3 separate regions of the Homo sapiens genome follow, and all the other regions are linked to region 3. Evidence: fine-mapped expression QTL. A gene starts in region 3. Each other region holds a variant in brackets. All regions are shown on one strand. Distances are from middle to middle. Region 1 overlaps OSBPL2 (oxysterol binding protein like 2). Region 2 holds the start of LOC124904946 (a long non-coding RNA gene). Region 3 holds the start of LAMA5 (laminin subunit alpha 5).

Evidence for each region. PIP is the estimated chance that this variant, and not a neighbour inherited with it, causes the effect. A credible set is the group of variants that fine-mapping cannot tell apart.
Region 1: its variant is the best candidate, but not a certain one, in a credible set for the expression of LAMA5 in whole blood (INTERVAL, PIP 0.75).
Region 2: its variant is the best candidate, but not a certain one, in a credible set for the expression of LAMA5 in whole blood (INTERVAL, PIP 0.83).

What each region holds. Positions count from the first base shown.
Region 1 is chr20:62,242,953-62,250,009 of GRCh38, reverse strand. The region is part of intron 1 of OSBPL2 (oxysterol binding protein like 2); the gene reads right to left. Among named protein-coding and RNA genes, the nearest start is that of OSBPL2, 8.0 kb to the right of the region's middle. RefSeq lists enhancers at 5,001-5,608, 5,609-6,217. The variant C/T (reference allele first, on the strand shown) is at 3,516.
Region 2 is chr20:62,337,296-62,342,295 of GRCh38, reverse strand. It overlaps LAMA5 (laminin subunit alpha 5), which reads left to right. Exons shown (of 80, transcript NM_005560.6): 12 at 3,688-3,828; 13 at 3,927-4,064; 14 at 4,146-4,280; 15 at 4,358-4,492; 16 at 4,569-4,706. It overlaps LOC124904946 (a long non-coding RNA gene), which reads right to left and starts at 2,322. Exons shown (of 2, transcript XR_007067699.1): 1 at 2,175-2,322. RefSeq lists an enhancer at 2,133-2,262. The variant G/C (reference allele first, on the strand shown) is at 2,805.
Region 3 is chr20:62,365,372-62,372,350 of GRCh38, reverse strand. It overlaps LAMA5 (laminin subunit alpha 5), which reads left to right and starts at 5,039. Exons shown (of 80, transcript NM_005560.6): 1 at 5,039-5,402. The coding sequence starts at 5,106. RefSeq lists enhancers at 639-1,336, 2,737-3,436, 5,535-6,234, 6,933-6,979 and a silencer at 4,916-5,355.

The DNA of each region.
Region 1 (7,057 bases), 120 kb after region 3:
GAAAAGACAGGAGGACCAGGGTGTGCTGGGAAGCACAGATGGCCCCATGGGGTCGAGGAGCGCCTGCCCCAGCCAGGTCCTCAGTCCTTCCTCCCTCCCATCTGCCCACCCCTGGACTTCTCAGAGGCCTGGGTGGGGCCAGGTGTGGTGGCTCAGGCCTGTAATCCCAGCACTTTGGGAGGCTGAGGCGGGTGGATCACCTGAGGTCGGGAGTTCAGACCAGCCTGACCAACATGGAGAATACCCCTTCTCTACTAAAAATACAAAATTAGCCAGGCGTGGTGGCCCATGCCTGTAATCCCAGCTACTCGGGAGGCTGAGGCAGGAGAATTGCTTGAACCTGGGAGGCGGAGGTTGCAGTAAGCCGAGATCGCGCCACTGCACTCCAGCCTGGGCGACAGAGGCTGTTTATTTTATTAACAAATAAATAAAAATTTAAAAAGCAAAAATAATTTTAAAAAGCAAAAGTTAGGCTTCATAATTGAGTATCAAAGTTGAGGAATATACAGAAAGTTAAATGTTTAAGAAAAAGCATTAGGAAGGCAGAGTTTATTTCCTGAATATGTTCTTCCACGCGCAGATCTCACTTTGCACTCAGAAAACAATCCCCAGAGAGAGTATTTCAGGAACAAACTTTGCTGGGGTTTTCTGTCTGTTTTAAGGGGCTCTTTCTGTTCAACTTCTCCCTTTTCTACTTCTAGAGAAAAACCCTGGGGCCTGAGTCTGTGCTGGGCATCTCTGCTGGCCTCTTGCCCTTTGTCCTTCTCCAGTGAGATTTTTTTTTTGGGGGGTTGGGGGGCACTTCCTTGGCCCCAAGGACGCCATCCCTGCAGGCCCCAGTGAGTCTCAGTTCCCCTAGCCCAGGGAACTCACCAGTCCCTTGAAAAGGACCCCAGCACACTTTCTTAAAGGTGCTGTCCCCGTCCCACCAGGATCTCAAAATGTCCTACCACTGGTATGAAGACTTGGACTCAAGTCGTACAAACCCATCTTTATGTTTTTCTCAGATGTGGGCCCTGCACGGTGGCTCACATCTATAACCCCAATACCTTGGGAAGCCAAGGTGGCAGATGGCTTGAGCCCAGGAGTTTAAGACCAGCCTGAGCAACACAGTGAGATACTGTCTGTACAAAAAAACAAAATAAAATAAATTAGCTGGGCACAGTGGCACGTGCCTATAAGTCCCAGCTACTTAGGAGACTAAGGCAGAAGGACTGCTTGACCCCAGGTGTTGGAGGCTGCAGTGAGCTATGATTGCTCCACTGCACTCCAGAGAGGGCAACAGAACAAGACCCTGTCTCTTAAAAAATAAATAAATAAATAAATAAATAAATAAAGCAGATCTGACAGTTCAGGAAGTTGGTGAACGAGACTGGGGATCCGGTGCTGACCACCACGGGCGACCTGCTGGAAGTTCAATTACATGTTGTTACTCTGTCCATCAGAAACAGGCAGGGCACCCCGGACATGCTGGACACAGAGAGTGCACTGATCACAAAAAGATTCTAAAATCACTTCTGAGGTTAAACATCAATTCTAAGTTCATACAGTTCTGCCCAGACACGATGGCTCATGCCTACAGTCCCAGCACTTTGGGAGGCCGAGGTGGACGGATCACCTGAGGTCAGGAGTTCGAGACCAGCCTGGCCAACATGGTGAAACCCCATCTCTACCAAAATATACAAAAATTAGCCAGGCATGGTGGCGTGCACTTTTAATCTCAGCTACCCAGGAGGCTGAGGTGGGAGAATCGCTTGAACCTGGGAGGCAGAGGTTGCAATGAGCCAAGATTTAGCCATTGCACTCCAGCCTGGGCAACAGAGCGAGACCCTGTCACAAAAAAAAAAAAAAAAAGAAAAGAAAAGAAAAAAGAAAAAAAAAGAAAAGAGAGAAAATATAAGTTTTATTTCATAATTTAAAAATACATCAGCAAGCAGCACTAACAAATAAACAACTGTGCACAGAGCCTTATGTGGTATTTTGCTGAAAGGGAAAACGTTCCCACTATTAACAACGATGGGGTTCTGTCTTAGAAAGGACCCTAAGGGGCCGGGCGTAGTGGCTCACACCTGTAATCCCAGCACTTTGGGAGGCCGAGGTGGGCGGATCACAAGGTCAGGAGTTCGAGACCAGCCTGGCCAATATGGTGAAACTCCATCTCTACTAAAAATACAAAAATTAGCCGGACATGGTGGCAGGTGCCTGTAGTCCCAGCTACTAGGGAGGCTGAGGCAGGAGAATAGCTTGAACCTGAGGAGGAGATTGCAGTGAGCTGAGATTGCACCACTGCACTCCAGCCTGGGCGACAGAGCGAGACTCCAGCTCAAAAAAAAAAAAAAAGAAAGAAAGAAAGGACCCTAAGGACCCCATCCAACACTACTTCCATTTGAAAGAATGCTCCTCCTCCTGCCTCCTCCTGCCTCCTCCTGACAGGTCAAAGAATGCTCCTCCTCCTGACAGGTCAAAGCCACTGGCAGAGACTTTCAAACTCATTCCCGTAGGGATCACACTGCGGTCAGGCATGGCCGGGGAGCTACAGTCCCTCAGTCCCCGCGGTCCCGCTGAGCTTCGCAGGGAGGCAGCTGCGGCGTGGGGGCAGCAATCATAAGCCAAGGTGCCAGGGCAGTCACAGGGAATGGGTTCCACAGGCCTGGTTCTGCTCCACAAGAGGCCACATCCAGCACAACCACAGAGCAAGCGACCCCAGAGGACCCACAGGAAGATCTTCAGTGCCTAAGCCAAGAGGCAAGCTCAGCCATCCCTGCACTCACTCAAGCCGACGTGCACATCAAACCAGCTTCCAGGGCCAAGCGAAGTTCCCGGTGCAGCATCGTGCACTGAAGAGCACCTGCCATCCGCTCAAGGTCAAGGCTAACACGTGAGCCCAACCACAGTGCAGAGCAGAACTAGGTCAGGCTGGGGCCGGCCAAGGAGCAAACCAAAGCCACTGTCACATCCCTGCAGGACTTCTCCTTCCCCAGAGCAGTCGGCGACCTGGCAGGGCCTAACCTGGCCACTCAAATGCTTGGAAAGATGCCACCATGACACTGCGAGGTTGCCAGAGCACCAGGAAGGGAAACAAGTGTCACCTACGAGCATCAGAGTCACAAAGTTTAAGGACAGAATTAGCTCTCTGTGGAAATTAAAGAACAGAAAGGTCTCCCGGATCAAGGCTGGAGGATGGGAACATGAAATCATGGACAGCAAGACAAAGCCTGCTGTGACATGAACGGACCCAGGGAGAACCTGGTGTGAGATGCCTGCACCTCCGTGTGGCACTGAGGGGGAGGGGCAGGGGCTGAGGGACAGGGGCGCAGCTCTCTTCACCCAGCACCTTCTAAGCCCTGGGGCAGGAGTGACCAGTCAGGGCCTCTCTGACACCTCATCCCTCCCTGCGTGTCCAAGCCTAGCGTGGGCAATGCTTCTCAGCTAGCATTTCAGCCTTGACACATCCACTTTGCAAACTCAGCCCATGCATCACCCGGACGCCTAGAAGCCCTCACCCCACTGACACC[C/T]AGCTGGCCACCAGGCCACAATCTCGTTTCTTTTGCAAAAAAACAAAACTTAACTAAAACAAAGACTCAACATTTCACAGCTTCAGAGCTGAGCTTAGACTCTCCCATGGCACTGGAAATGTCATCTGTCCAGTGTCGTCCCTATGGGCCACAGGTGGCTACAAGCACTTGAAACGTGAGGGAGAACTGAATGCTGGATGCTAATCAGCTGAATTGACTTCACTTCAACAGCCACCCACGGCAGTGGCGCCCATCCTGGACACAGCGTCCCGGGGCCCCATGGGGCTGAGCCATCATGGGACCATGCCCTGCCTGTGACCAGCCCCACCAGAGGGTGGAGGAAGATGGAGGCGGCGGCAGCAGCGAGAGCAGAGGGCTTTGCCAGCCCCAGGCGCAGGTCCAGGCCTCTGCGAGGAGACGCGGGAATGGCAGCCGGCCCCGCGCCACAGCTACCTCTCAAACACCAACCCCACAACGATGGAGGGCCGTCAAGGACACCGCCAGGCCAGGCCCCATTCCTCCTTCCCAGACCTCCCTGGATTGCTCCGTCTGTGCTCACTGAAACACGCCTTCTGCCAATTGTCGAGGAAAAAAATCAAGCCTTAATATTCCTGTCATTGTAAAAGCTTAACGGTTATTTTTACAGATTTTGTATAAATTTAGAACCAAATAAACAAGTCATATGCCATTCACAACAATGACCTTTTTTAACAAGGGGTATGTGCACGGCTGTCTGTCCTCGTCACCATCTGCAGCCCGTCACGAGTGAGGCACGTACGACTGGCCGCTCAGGCCTTTGCCCTTAAATGCACTGTGTTTTGGTGGCAATGGGATGGAATCAAGAGTGACCTTTATTGAACACTGGTTCTTGATCCTTTAGCCAAATAAGGTTAAGTCCAACTGCATCAGAAGCTCCAGGAGACAGCCCTTCTGAGCACAGAACCAGCTGGCTCTAGGTCTGCGCTTTTTAACCTGAACAACCTCTCCGCCTTCTTCAGGCCTGTATGGTTCTTCTTAGCGTGGGGCTCTACGTGGCTCATCACAAACCAGCTCCCTAACACCACACAGAATGTAACACGCCTTAGCTGAAGAACAGGTTTCAGGCCGGGCGCGGTGGCTCACGCCTGTCATCCCAGCACTTTGGGAGGCCACGGCAGGCAGATCACTTGAGGTCAGGAGCTCAAGACCAGCTGGGCAACATGGCAAAACCCCATCTCTACTAAAAATACAAAAAAATTACAGGTGGCACATGCCTGTAGTCCCAGCTACTCAGAAGGCTGAGGCACAAGAATCACTTGAACCCATGAGGCGGAGGTTGCAGTGAGCCGAGATCGCGCCACTGCACTTCAGCCTGGGCGACAGAGGCAAGACACCGTCTCAAAAAAAAAAAAAAAGAACAGATTTCAGCCCTTTATCCTAAGACACCAGCGTGGACACACGAATGGCTCAACCCTGACTCGGGAAGGCCCTGTGCTACGCGTGCCAGCCAGGCAAACTTGCCAGGTGCACATGAGGACTCTGCATCAGTCCAGAATTCACGCAGGAAGTTTCTACACTGAGAAAGGCAGGTGAACCTCTCCCACTGTGCAGACAGCAGCACCCCCACTGTTTACCATTCTCCATGCCAAGAGGGTGACCTTGAGAGGCAGGCAAAGGTGAGCCCGGCTTGGTCCCAAGAAGCAGCTGTGGGGAGTGGCAAACCTTCCCACTGGGCCTCGCGGCCAGTGTGGCCCGACGTCCCGGAAGCGGAGCCTAGCGCCCCACTCACCACAGTCAACTCCCTCAAGTCTTGTCGCTGACTTAACTGCTTCCTGTGGAATATTAATTGCCAAAAATACACCACGCACCTCGAGGAACATTACCTTGTAATGCAGTACGATGTATTTCCAAACACACAAGATGAATGCAAGCGCTTCCGTACAAAAACATGTGTTTTAATCAACCTTCTCCTTATGCAACACAATAAAAAGCTGTTCCAATGCGGCCCACGAGACTGGGTGGGAAGGCAATGGACAGGGCGCATGCCCCACAGCTCACGGGCGCCCTGCTCTCAGAAAGCCATGCCGGAGGGCAGGGAGAGCACTCCAAGGGCAGCAGCAGTCCAGCCAGCCCCCGACCCGCCGCCGCTGTGTATCTCTGATGATCAAAACCAACGGCCCCGAGAGGAGCCCAGCCTGCGGCTGCAGCTAGAGGAGAAGGAGACACCTTGTACCCACATCTCACAACCCAGCAAGGGCCACAGCAGGCGGAGGACGCGGTGAGGGAGTGGGAGGAAAATTAAGACAGCAAAGGGAAGTGAGTGACCCAGGTGAGAGGCTGTTGTCCTGCAGGGCTCCCGGCCTTCCCCAGGGCACCTGCCCAGCCAAGGAGTGGCTGGCTTGCTGGAGTGCGTCCTTGCCCTCTGGCCGCCTCCTTCTCTGTGGCCTCAGCTCCAGGCCCTCCTCACCATCGTGCCCATCTTCATCCTGTGCAGCCCTAATGGGGTCCACTGTGCTGAGAAACCTGTCACCCTAACATCAGACCTGCCCACGTGGCTGCCAACTGTGCTTCCTGAGCACCTACAGGCAGGGCTTCAAACCAAGGTCAGGGAAAACCACCAATCTCTAACCCCCCTACCCTCTGCAAAAAAAATTTTTTTTTAATTAAAAAATTTAAAAAAACAGGAAAAAAAATTTTTCGTTCATTTTTTTCCCCAGAATAATGACCCACATTATTCATATTCATGAAGTTCTCAAAGGGGTCCTTGATCTAAAAAAGGGTCCTGACCCCACCGTGGGCCTCCAGCACTTGGACTCCCCGCTGAGGACCCACCCCAGACCCTCCCGAGCTTGTTAAACACATCTCTTCCTGGGCCCCTCCCGGGAAACCCAGGCTCAGTGAAGCTGGGGCTGGGCCTTGAACCCACACTTTTTAAAAAGTTCCCCCAGCTTTTCTGATGAGAAGCAGGGGTGAAAACTCCATGATGTTAACCCAGGAGCCTTCTACCCTGACAGCCGAGCCACTGAAGAGGCGGAGCTGCCGGGCAGGCGCTGCGGGGCAGGCGCTGCGGGGCAGGGGCTGCGGGGCAGGCGCTAGGGCTCCTCGGGCACCTCTGCACTGGGACCCCTCCCCTGGCCCCAGCTCAGGCACTGCCCTGGCTCTGCTTCCGCTCAGGTGTTCCAGCATTTCCCACAGGTGAGACTTACTTGGAAGACGGGTGATGATTACAGCGAGACTCCCAGCTCTGCTACATCATCAAGAGAGGCCAAGCCAGAGCCAGGGCACTCGCAGGAGCTCGCCACCACAGACGCAGCCCGTGTCCTCTTTCACAGTAAGAGGGTAGCCCCACGCCCTGTGCGCACCTGACACCTGCCGTCATTATCGGAGTCACCGAAATGTCACTGAATCACAGTCCCCCTAGTTTTAAGGCAATAATGGAAGTTGCTCTCTGGCCGAGCACAGTGGCACAAGGTCCCAGGTTACAGGGGGCTCTTTCTCACGATCAGCCTTGGATCAGCCTTAGGTTTATTCAGTACAAAGCACAGGCACTCACTTCCACACCA
Region 2 (5,000 bases), 29 kb after region 3:
AGTTTCACTCTGTCGTCCAGGCTGGAGTGCAGTTGCACGATCTCGGCTCACTTCAACCTCTGCCTCCTGGGTTCAAGCGATTCTCCTGCCTCAGTCTCCCGAGTAGCTGGGATTACAGGCACCTGCCACCACGCCTGGCCAATTTTTTGTATTTTTAGTAGAGACGGGGTTTCACCATGTTGGCCAGGCTGGTCTTGAACTCTGACCACAAGTGATCCACCTGCCTCGGCCTCCCAAAGTGCTGGTATTACAGGCATGAGCCACCACGCCTGGCCAGTTTTCTTCCTCATCTTAAGTCAGGTTTGATTATTTGTATTAGCAAATTGTGTATTTTGTTTGGATTTTTTAATGTATTGACATAAAGTTATGCACAGTGGCCTGTTATAAAGTTAAAATTTCTGTTCATTTCTATTCTCGTCTATTTTTATTTTTATTTTCTTTCTTCTTCTTTTTTTTTTTTTTTTTTTTTGGTTGATCAGACCTAACAGAGGTTCGTTGAGTTTATTGGTCTGTTCGAAGTACAGGTGCAGTTCTCTTGATAAGACCTGCTGAGGTTTTTCTTTCTTTAGTTGGGAGGAGAGATTTTCCTTTCTAATATTCAATTTCTTTAATCCACTTTCTTTGATTTATCACTTTTTTAAAATAGCTTCTTGAGTTATTATTTTTAGTCTGTCTTCATTCCCAACAAAAAGGCTTAAAGCAGTGGTTCTCAGCCAGTGGTGACTTTGATGCACAGGAAGCATTCGATGATGTCTGGAGACATTTTTGGTTGTGACGATTGATGGATGTAACTGATCCAGTGGGTAGAGGCTAGGGATGCTGGGAACCTCCTACAACACAGGACTGCTCCTGCACACATAACAAAGAGTTATCCAGCCTGGACTGTCAGTAGTCCTGAGGCTGGGAAACTCTAGTTTAAAGCTATAAATTTTCCTCAGAGTATACCTTTGGCTAGGTATCTTGTAGTTTGAGATGTGGGGTGTCCTCATTGCTGTGTTTTTTTTAAATAGTCTATCATTTGGGGTTTTATTTTCTTTCAACCCGTCACTGTTCAAGGTGCTGAGGTTTCCCTCCTGTCCTTTTCGTGGTGTGCAGTTCTGGTTTTGCTGCATCGTGGTTAGACTTGGCACACTGATAGTTTCTGCCTTTTGTCTTTGGAATTTGAGATTTTCTTTGTTTCTAACCTAGAATGTGACGACTTTTATTTTTTAATTTTATTTATTTATTTATTTATTTATTTATTTATTTATTTATTTTGACACAGAGTCTCACTCTGTCACCCAGGCTGGCGTCCAGTTGCACGATCTCGGCTCACTGCAACCACCACCTCCTAGGTTCAAGCGATTCTCCTGCCTCAGCCTCCCGAGTAGCTGGGACTGATTATAGGCGCCCACCACCATACTTGGGTAATTTTTGTATTTTTAGTAGAGATGGGGTTTTACCATGTTGGCCAGGCTGATCTCGAACTCCTGACCTCAGTTGATCCACCCACCTCAGCCTCCTAAAGTGCTAGGATTACAGGCATGAGCCACTGCGCCTGGCAGTTTCTGCCTTTTGTTTTTGGAATTTGAGATTTTCTTTGTTTCTAATCCAGAATGTGACCACTTTTAGATTGTTCCAGGAACATTGGACAGGAATGTGTGTTCTCTATGGAGTACCGATTTGGCATGTTAAAGCAGACTTGTGGCCAGGTGCGATGGCTCACGCCTGTAATCCCAGCACTTTGGGAGGCTGAGGTGGGCAGGTCACCTGAGGTCGGGAGTTCGAGACGAGCCTGACCAACATGGAGAAACCCCGTCTCTACTAAAAATACAAAATAAGCTGTGCATGGTGGCGCATGCCTGTAATCCCAGCTACTCGGGAGGCTGAGGCGGGAGAATGGCTCGAACCCGGGAGGTAGGGTTTGCAGTGAGCTGAGATGGCGCCACTGCACTCCAGCCTGGGCAACAAGAACGAAACTCCATTTCAAAAAAAAAAAAAAAAAAAAAAACAAAGGAGGCTTGTTCATTATGCTCTTCAAACCCACAGTACCCTTGCTCAATTTCTGTCCCTCTGAGCTGTCACAGTCTACCTATGTATCTCCATCCAGTCTTTGTCTCTCTCTGACTCTGGTTTGCCAAATTCTCCTTGCCATTTTAATAGTTTTAGCTTCCCTCACCTCCAGGACACGTTACCTGCTCCTAGAGATTCGTTTCTGCTGCCCGTTGGGTGACATGCCTGAGCTTCCCTCTGTCTCGTTACCGCTGTGCCTTCCGTCCTCACTCCTCTGTGTTTGCGTCCACCCCAGCTCCCTGCACACAGCTCTCGGTTTACCACCTGTCTGAGGCGTTGGTTTAAGGTACGCTCTTTCAAGAGGCTATGGCTGGAGTTTCCTCTTGGTCACGCTGACGTCTTCGGTTTTTATCTCATGAAGGAGACAGCGCAGCCCCACGATCGTCCTTGCCTCTGTCAGTTCTGGCTGGCTCCTGCCCTTGTATCATTTCTCCTTTTCTGCTGAAACATTTCCTTTCCTGACTTTCACAAGTTAGAGCAAGAAAACGTGCTTTGATTTTGGTTTTTGCTACTGTTTCCTCTCTGGGGAGGGTTTGCAAGCTCTCTTTCTGTGTTCTGGTCTGACCAGTGGTTACTCTTACATTTTTGACAAGTATTGAACCTTTATTTTTCTATCAGTAACAAAACTGAAGCGTGCTCACAACCCTCCTTTCATGCGTAAGTTAAGACATTTGATACATTCTTTCTACCTTCTTCCCAACACCTGACATTGTTTCTAAAGAAACTATAATTTTAATCCCAGCACTTTGGGA[G/C]GCCGAGGCAGGCGGATCACGTGGTCAGGAGATGGAGACCGTCCTGGCTAACATAGTGAAACCCCGTCTCTACTAAAAATACAAAAATTAGCCGGGCGTGGCAGCGTGCACCTGTAGTCCCAGCTGCTGGGGAGGCTGAGGCAGGAGAATGGTGTGAACCCGGGAGGCAGAGCTTGCAGTGAGCCCAGATCGTGCCACTGCACTCTAGCCTGGGCGACAGATCAAGACTCCGTCTCAAAAAAAAAAAAAAAAAAAAAAAAGAAACTATAATTTGTTTTGCAGCTTGTTTTGAGTTTTGATTTGTTTGTATTTTCTCTTTGTGTTAATGCTTGCAGCTAACTAGGAATCTACGTAAGAAATAACTAATGAAGCGTTTTGATAGTTGGCCTGACTTTGTTGCACATCACTGTTTTCCCAAACACGCCTCTCCCTTGTTGGAATTTTTTTTTTTTTTTGAGACGGAGTCTCACCCTGTCGCCCAGGCTGGAGTGCAGTGGTGCGATCTCGGCTCATTGCAACCTCCGCCTCCCAGGATCAAGCGATTCTCCTGCCCCAGCCTCCCAAGTAGCTGGGATTACAGGGGTGCACCACTACGCCCAGCTAATTTTTGTATTTTTAGTACAGACAGGGCTTCACTATGTTGGTCAGGCTGGTCTCGAACTCTTGACCTCATGATCTGCCCGCCTCGGCCTCCCAAAGTGCTGGGATTACAGGCGTGAGCCACTGCACCCAGCCCTTGCTGGGATTTTTATTATTTTATTTTCTAGTTAGTGTTGTGTAAAAGTGTAAGAAAATGAGTTTGTGGAGAGGGAAGGTTTGCCAGGAGGGGCGTACTGGGGTCTGCAGGGCATCTGAGACTCCCCTGCCTGTCCCCACCCTCCAGATTGTGACTGCAGCGCGGCAGGGACCCAGGGCAACGCCTGCCGGAAGGACCCAAGGGTGGGACGCTGTCTGTGCAAACCCAACTTCCAAGGCACCCATTGTGAGCTCTGCGCGCCAGGGTTCTACGGCCCCGGCTGCCAGCGTGAGTCCCCTCTCCCCGCTCAACCTCTACCTGCGCTCGAGGTGGACACCTGAGGCCTGGTGCCTCTGACCAAGCATGTGGGCCACCCTTTCCTGCAGCCTGCCAGTGTTCCAGCCCTGGAGTGGCCGATGACCGCTGTGACCCTGACACAGGCCAGTGCAGGTGCCGAGTGGGCTTCGAGGGGGCCACATGTGATCGCTGTGCCCCCGGCTACTTTCACTTCCCTCTCTGCCAGTGTGAGTGGTGCCTCTCCACGTGGGCGTGGGTAGGGGAGGCCCGTGGGCCTGGCCTACCGTGACACCCGCTCCGCTCTGCAGTGTGTGGCTGCAGCCCTGCAGGAACCTTGCCCGAGGGCTGCGATGAGGCCGGCCGCTGCCTATGCCAGCCTGAGTTTGCTGGACCTCATTGTGACCGGTGCCGCCCTGGCTACCATGGTTTCCCCAACTGCCAAGGTGAGCAGAGGGTCAGGGCAGGAAGGGGTTCTGCCACCCACATGGCGCCAGGGCCTGACCCCATTGTCCCTCTGCAGCATGCACCTGCGACCCTCGGGGAGCCCTGGACCAGCTCTGTGGGGCGGGAGGTTTGTGCCGCTGCCGCCCCGGCTACACAGGCACTGCCTGCCAGGAATGCAGCCCCGGCTTTCACGGCTTCCCCAGCTGTGTCCGTGAGTGCCTAGGGAGGAAGTGGTGGGGAGGCAGGTGCAGTCTCCACTGCGTGCCCACAGCTATCCTTGTCTGCAGCCTGCCACTGCTCTGCTGAAGGCTCCCTGCACGCAGCCTGTGACCCCCGGAGTGGGCAGTGCAGCTGCCGGCCCCGTGTGACGGGGCTGCGGTGTGACACATGTGTGCCCGGTGCCTACAACTTCCCCTACTGCGAAGGTGAGCAGGCAGGTGGCTGTGTGCACCAGGTGCCGGGCCTGTGTGTGGGTCTGTGCTGTTCACACGCTGCCTGCCTTCCTGTGAGGCTGTTCACGTGCATCTTGCTGTGTGTACTGCGACTGCGTCCCCACGCTCTGTGTTCGCACCTTGTTCACATGCCGTGCAGGGGTGTCCGCGTACTGCCCGTGTCTGCGTGCTGTGCATCCGCGCCTGTCGTGTCTCGTATGGGTGCATGTGTTGCGTTCTGTGTGTGTACGGGTGTCATGTGTTGCTTGTGTGGGTGTGTGTGTCACC
Region 3 (6,979 bases):
GAGGAGGGCACAGGCAGGCCAGGCCCCAGGGGTAGAGGCTCAGGGTCCCGAGTCACCCTGCCCAGCATGCTGGGGCGCCCCCATTCCGCCTGTTTCCCCTGGGGTTCCTGGCCCCTGGAGCTCACTAGGGCTCCCCAGTCTAGGCCTGAGGCAAGCAAGTGGTAAGAATGGGGGTACGGGGTAGGGGGACCGCAATTAAATAAGATTAAGGTGACACGTGGAAGCGTAGGTGCCCGGCCTCGGGGTGGACGCTGCAGCCGTGTGCCACTGCATGTTTACCCCGGGCGATGCCTTTTCTGGGGCTCCCCAGAGATCTGGGGGCAGGAGTCCTGGACTCTGCCTCACACCCCAGCAAGGTGCTGGGAGGTGCCCTGACAGGGGCCCCCACTTGAGGGAGGGGATGGGTTGGGGTCCTGGGAGCAACCTTGTTACTGGACCGGCCCCTTCCCTGCCAAGTTGTAGGTGGTTAGATCCCAGGGAGGTCCCGGGCCCCCTCCCTGGGAGTTCCCAGGGCCCCCTACTCCTTCCCTCCTAAAGGCTGGCAGGGTGGAGGCTCCCCTACACCCAGCTACACAGGCCCAGGCCGGGGCAGGGGCATCCAGGTGGGATCCTGGACTCTGGACTTTCGGTCGCCACGCAGACCACCCCACAGAGCTCCATGAGGCCCCCCCATTTCTGAGCACCCCAGGTTTGCCTGCTTGTCATGGGGCTGGGCCCGCCTGCACAGGGCACCAGCCCAAGCGCTTCTCCTTGCCACTTGGGAAGAAAAGGAGCTGGGTGGGCAAGAGGAGCCTCGGGGAGCATCTGTGGAGAGCCCAAGGAGCCCGGATGCTGACCCTCTCCAGATCTCCGACACTGGGCACCACCTAAGCCTGTCTGCACCCCCTCTGGCATGGGGGCCCACCTGAAACCCCCCAGGTGTGAACCCAGTGGCAGCCTTTGGGTCGGGCCTCGGGGAGTGGGCAGGCGTGAGGCATGTCACCTGCACGGGTGACTTGTCTCCTGGAGCCCTAAGGCGGTGGCCATGCTCCTGGCATGGTGCCTGGCCTGGAAGGCTTTGAAGAGCCCCAAGTCTGTGGAGGGCCTGCCCCGTGAGTGGTGCCTGGGGCTGCGTGGCCTGTGAGCTGGGCACACACAGCAAGTGGCAGAGGGGCCAGGGGCCAGGCAGCGGTGGGTCAGAGTCCTTCATTCCTGGTTAGTGTCAACCCGGAGCCTGGTCTCTGTGCTTTCCAACAACCACATGTCCCAGAGGCCGTCAGGAGCCCAGCAGTGGCCCAGCTGGGGTCACAGCCAGGGAGGAAAAAGCACCACTCCTTCCAAACGGGCTGTTTCCAGACCCTGCCTAGGCCAGGAAGGCCGGACTATCCCTTGGCCCCATCCTTCTGGCAGCAGGAACCTGCAGACCCTCGGAGGCTGGAGGCAGGTGGCAGCCCTGGGGGAAGGCGGGCTCCAGGCCTGGGGGAGGGGTCTGGCTATGGCTCAGGGTCTTCCTGGGCTCTGCCTCCATTCCTTTGAGGCCAGCCCCCCAGGGTCTGCAACTCCGGGCTGGCTCTTACAGCAGTCTGTCCAGGCTGAGGGCAGTGGGGGCCTCCTAGGCCAAGAGGCCCAGAAGCTCTCCCAGTCCGCTGGGTTTATGCAATCCTGATGAGACCTTGTCTTCCCGGCACCTGCTGTTCTGTGTCCTCCTCCCAGAGGACTGAGCTGGCCCACGCGAACAGTTCAGAACCAGCCTTGCTGCCCGCTCCCAGCTTCTCTATTTCATGGACAGGGATGGAGGTTCTTACCAGCCGGCTCCACGGAAGGGCATCCCAGCAGCCCTGAGAAAGGGACTGTGGCCTCCGATATCCCAAACCACAGCGCTGGCGTTCCTCCAGACCTCATCCCGCTGAGACAACATTCCCAGTTCTGGAGTGGGAGCCACAAGGCCTCACCCGCAGGCCCGGCCCTAGCAGGAGCCCAGCCTCCAGCCCTCCTTCTTGCTCAGCCCCCGCTTCCTCTTGGGGGCTTCTCCCGAGGGTACAGCACCCACTTGGACCCTGGGCTCTGGGACAGGAGGGTCTGCAGAGTCATCTGTTACTGATTGTGGCTGCCTGTGATGCAGCTGAGTGTGGGCGTGGGGGTGCCCCATGTCCTCAGCACAGCGGTGTCCCCAGGAGGCTCCCAAGGTCAGGAGTTCACGACTCACGGCTGAGTCAGATGTGCCTGTGGCCTACCCTCAGGGTCCCCCACAGCTGCCTGCAGGTGTGGCCGAGTAGGGTGGGGGCATTCTCAGGAATGCCACTGGAGTAGCACTGGGGGCTCAGGTGAGGTGGCTGCCCCCAGGGCTCCGCAGCAGACCTTGTCCCAGGGCTGGGGGAGGATCTGAGACCCCTTCCCCAGGGCCAGGAGTGCCCCTACTTCTCTCGGGCTGCCACTGACCCCTGCCCCCGACCCACCTCCTCTGGGGCTCCATCACCCTGGAGCTGGGTGGGCAGGGGCTCTGGATCTTGGATTGTCCCTGGAGGGCAGCCAGAGCCTGGTGGGACAGAGGCTCCTCCACGGCCCTCCCCTGGCGAGCCACCTCCTTTTACCCTCCCCTCCACTCCCAGACTGGGCAGCTCCCTCCTGTGGATTCAGGACAGGACGTGTTTGGGGGTGGGGTGCCGTCTGACCTGTTGCAGGGAGGAGGACTACGTCACGGGCGGGTGCCCGAAAGATGCCCAGTAAATAGGAGTAAGAAATGAATGATGGACAAACTTCCTCTTGCTTTACTAACTTGTGTGCTCTTGATTGACCCTGGCCTTTTTGGCCTCAGTTTCCCCATTTGTAAATAGAAGAGGTGGCTGGGCTGCGCAGGACTCAGAAAGACAAGGAGACAGGCTCGCTGGTCCATTTGGTGATGACTCACTGGAACCATGACAAAGACAGCAGGGGTGGGGGTGTGCAGAGATGAGCTGCCCCTCTCCCTGCTCACCTCCCCAACCCCCTGTGTGTAGCCCGGCTGGGACAGCCCCCCCGCCCTCCATACGCTCAGCTCCTGCCCCAGCTGCCTCCTTCCCAGTCCGTGCACCAGCAGACACAGGGTGGGGGCAGAGTGTGGGCTCTTTACCCAGCCCCTGGGCCACATTCTCTTGTCCACTGCGCTGCCCGCCTGCCTGCCAGTTGCTCCCGGGGCAGCTGTCTGCCGGGAAGCAGTGAGCCCGGTGATTAACCCTGCTGGTGCTGGCAGCTCCGGCTGACACAGCGCATTCTCAGGGCCGGCCCCCGCTCCCCTCCTGGCCAGTGCCGGGGGACAGCGGAGGCCTGGCAGCTTGGCCTGATCTGGCCGCTAGGAGGCTTAAAGTGCTCTCCCCACCCCCACCTCTCCCCCTGCCCCGCCACTCGCAATCCCACCCCTCCAACCACCCGACCCTCCAGGGATCCCAAGAAGCCCTCAGGGTCTCAGGAGTCTCCACCTCCAGTCCCCCAGGCTGTCAGAGCCCCAAGCTGTCAAGGGGGAGCCCAGAGCCAGAGCACACTGCCTGGGGCCAAGCCCCCACCTGGGGACCCGCTACTGCCCAGAGGCCACTCTCTGCCTCACACGGGATCTAAAGCAGCTCAGAGCCGGACTCTGCGCCTGGACTGCAGATTCCTTGATGTCTCCGCCCCCTCTCCAGCCAGCCCCTCCCCCACTTGGAGCTTCTCCTGCCAAGGGGAGCCGCCTCCTCTCCCCCCTCCCCCAGGTGGGAGAACTAATAGTGAAGTTATGGAAGAATTGCCGGGCCGGAAAGTAGGAGGAGGGAGAGAGGGTCCCATCGCCCTCCCGACTCCGTAGAGAAAGGGCCATACACCCTCTTGGGATTTGAGATTTGCAGGAGGCCAGGGCGCCAGGAAGGTGTGCAAGGAGGTGCACCCTCCAGGGACAGCTGCTAGCTCAGAACCCCCACCAGAACCGGCTGGCCAGTGCCCCACAAACCCACCCAGCCCCCCGGGACTGTCCAGGGAACCCAGCGAGAGATGAGCCCCACAGCCCATCTGGGACCATGGCCCGCCCAGCTGGCCTGGCTCAGGGATGGGGGTTTGCTGCCAGCTCGGCAGCTGCAGCCCCACCCCGCCGCCACCCCCTCGGGGCTTCCCTGGAGGCAGATTTGGCCCCGGAGCCCAAGGGAAGTAGGAGACCCAGGGCCGCAGCCACCCAAAGGCAGACGAAGACCTGATCTCGGCCTCTAGGTCCTGTGCTGTTTGCCAGGCGTCCTCGAGCCGCCGATCGTGGCAGGAACGCGTGCGCGGCTGTGCAGCGGGTTGGAGGCCAGGCCGAGAGAGCTGGTGGAGTCCACCGGGCCCCGGAGCACAGGTGCTTCCAGGCACCCAGCAGGTGCTCAGCAGCTGTGACCAGAGCCCCCGACCTCCTTAAGAGCCAATTTGGCGGCTGTGGGGCCATGAGCACCGCCCCCGTCCTCTAAAGGGGGCTGCAGCTGCAGGCCAGTCCCTCCTGCCCCTATTTCCCTATCTGAGAGTATTTTTAAGCCCTGCTGGGGCAGGCGGGAGCCAGGCCGAGTTGAACCTGACCTGGCTGCCCCAGGAAGCAGGGGGTTCCCACCTAGGCTGCCCCGTTCCTCTGCAGATGGTCATTCGCGGGTGCAGAGGGCACCTTCCCGCAGCCAGCAGGACGGACGCTGTTGGGGGAGGAGCGGGGGCAGCCGAGTGGTGCACCCAAGTTAGGGGAACAAAGAGTGGGCCCCTGGGCTGGGAGGAGCTGGTGGGCGCTCTGGGGGCCAGGGCGTCGTGGGGAGCGCTAGGGTCCCACCCGGGACCCGGAGCTACGACCTGGGCTGGGGGCCCGGCGGCGCCGTCGTCCCACGGCCTGGCCCGAGGCCAGCAGGTGCCCCTTCCGGGAGGCGGCCGGGCCGGGGTCCGAAGGGTTAAGGCCGCCCGGCCGCCCCTCCCCCTCCTCTCTCCTTCCCCCCCCCACCCCGCCTCCCCGGACCTCTCCCCGGGGCTCGGGGCTCGGGCGCTCGGGCGGGCCGGGGCGGGGCCTGACGTCCGCGGGCGGAGCGAGCCCTGCCGGCCGCCTGGCTTCAGACCCGCCGGGCTCCCGCCGCGCGCGCTGTCCCTGGAGCTCGGGGACGCGGCCCGGAGCCGGGAAGATGGCGAAGCGGCTCTGCGCGGGGAGCGCACTGTGTGTTCGCGGCCCCCGGGGCCCCGCGCCGCTGCTGCTGGTCGGGCTGGCGCTGCTGGGCGCGGCGCGGGCGCGGGAGGAGGCGGGCGGCGGCTTCAGCCTGCACCCGCCCTACTTCAACCTGGCCGAGGGCGCCCGCATCGCCGCCTCCGCGACCTGCGGAGAGGAGGCCCCGGCGCGCGGCTCCCCGCGCCCCACCGAGGACCTTTACTGCAAGCTGGTAGGGGGCCCCGTGGCCGGCGGCGACCCCAACCAGACCATCCGGGTGAGCGCAGGGGCGGGCCGTGGGGCTTCCTCCCGGGGCACTCGGACCCGGAACACCGGCCCGACCCCAGGGGGAGCGCCGTGGCCCGGGGCGAGTCCAGGTGCGGACTCTCTGGTTCCGCATTTTGGGGGCCCAAGAAGGCACCCCGACCCGGCCGCTCCGTCTCGGCCGGGAAACTTCGCGTCCCTCCGGGAAGGCGGAATTAAAGTCCCCGGCATGGACCCGGGGGCGGCTGGGCGCCGGTCCAGTTCGACTGCGGTGACCGGGGCGGGAGGGGGGCCGGGCCCAGTCCCTGGCGGCCCCAAGTCCGGGATCCCGGGGAGGGCGGGACTTGGCCTCCGCCGCCTGCTGCCGGTGGGGAGGGGGCGCAGCTCCGCCCTACCCGGGACAGGCTGGAACCTGTTGGCCTCTGGATGGGGTGGGAGGGGCCAGCCACCTGAGGCTCCCACTAGCCCCTCTCGGAGGAGTCTAGGGACTCGAGGAGACCTCCAAAGTAGGGGAGGGCCAGCTGCGAAGTTTTGACTGGGGCTGGGAACACGTGGCTCCCAGGAGGGGCAGCATCTCTGCCCAGCAGGTGGTAGGGTCCGGGGGCTTCAGTCTCCCTGGGAGATGTGGGTTCAGGCCCTGAAGACCCCCTGGGGTGCATGTCCCCTCCCCAACAAGCCTTAAACCTGTAGGCGGGTTCTGTTGGTGGACTCCATGCATGGACACCTCACCTGAAAACCAAGGCTCTTGGGGCCCTGTAGACTTAGGTTGGGCCTGGGGTCAGCCTTGGGTGAGGAGCAGCAAAGTCAGCTCCAACGGCTCCCAACCGGCCGCTCTAGGCCCATTCCCCACCTCAGCCCCACCTTAGGGAGAGTCTAGGGGCCCTGAGGGCCTGTGTAACCTGAGCTGTCTCCTCCCTGGTACCTCTGCCTTCCCGGAAGGAGAGGCTGGGGCAGGGGCGAGTAGCTGGAGATTTGCTGGGTGGGGGCAGAGGGCCCTGGAGCAAGACGTTATGGGGATGAATGGAGGAGCCTGGGCTGGGCCCGCCCCCTCTGCCTGCCCCACCCCCTTGGCCCTGGTGGAGGGGGAAGGAGCCTCCCCAGGCTTCTGGGCTCACCGTTCTCTCCTTAAGCCCAGCACAGTCCTCTGAGATAGGAGGTCTCAAGCCCACACTTCAGATGGGGGATCTGAGCCCTGGAAAGCTGCTGACACCTGCTTGGAGCCCCCCAGCCAGAACAGGGTCCAGCGGGGGTTAGCTGTGGGAACCTGGGTGCCTCCTGGCTGCCCCCTTATCTGGTCAACTCAGAGGGGCCGGGTCTCAGGACGGAGGGCCTGTGACTGTCTCCTTACCTGCTGCCACACCTCACCACAGAGGGCCTGGCTGAGTGTCCCCAGCTGAGATTTTGCCGTTCTGGCAGGGGAGGCTCCAGGTGCCCTGTGAACCTCAGACCACCCCCCCACAGCCTGCCCATGCTGCGTGGCTGGGGGCCACAGGCCCCCTCTCAGATCTGTCTCCTCTGTGGGGGCTTATTACCCCCGTCTCGTGAGTAAAGGGCCAGCCTGTAGTCAACGCCCCTCTCCTCTGCCTCAGC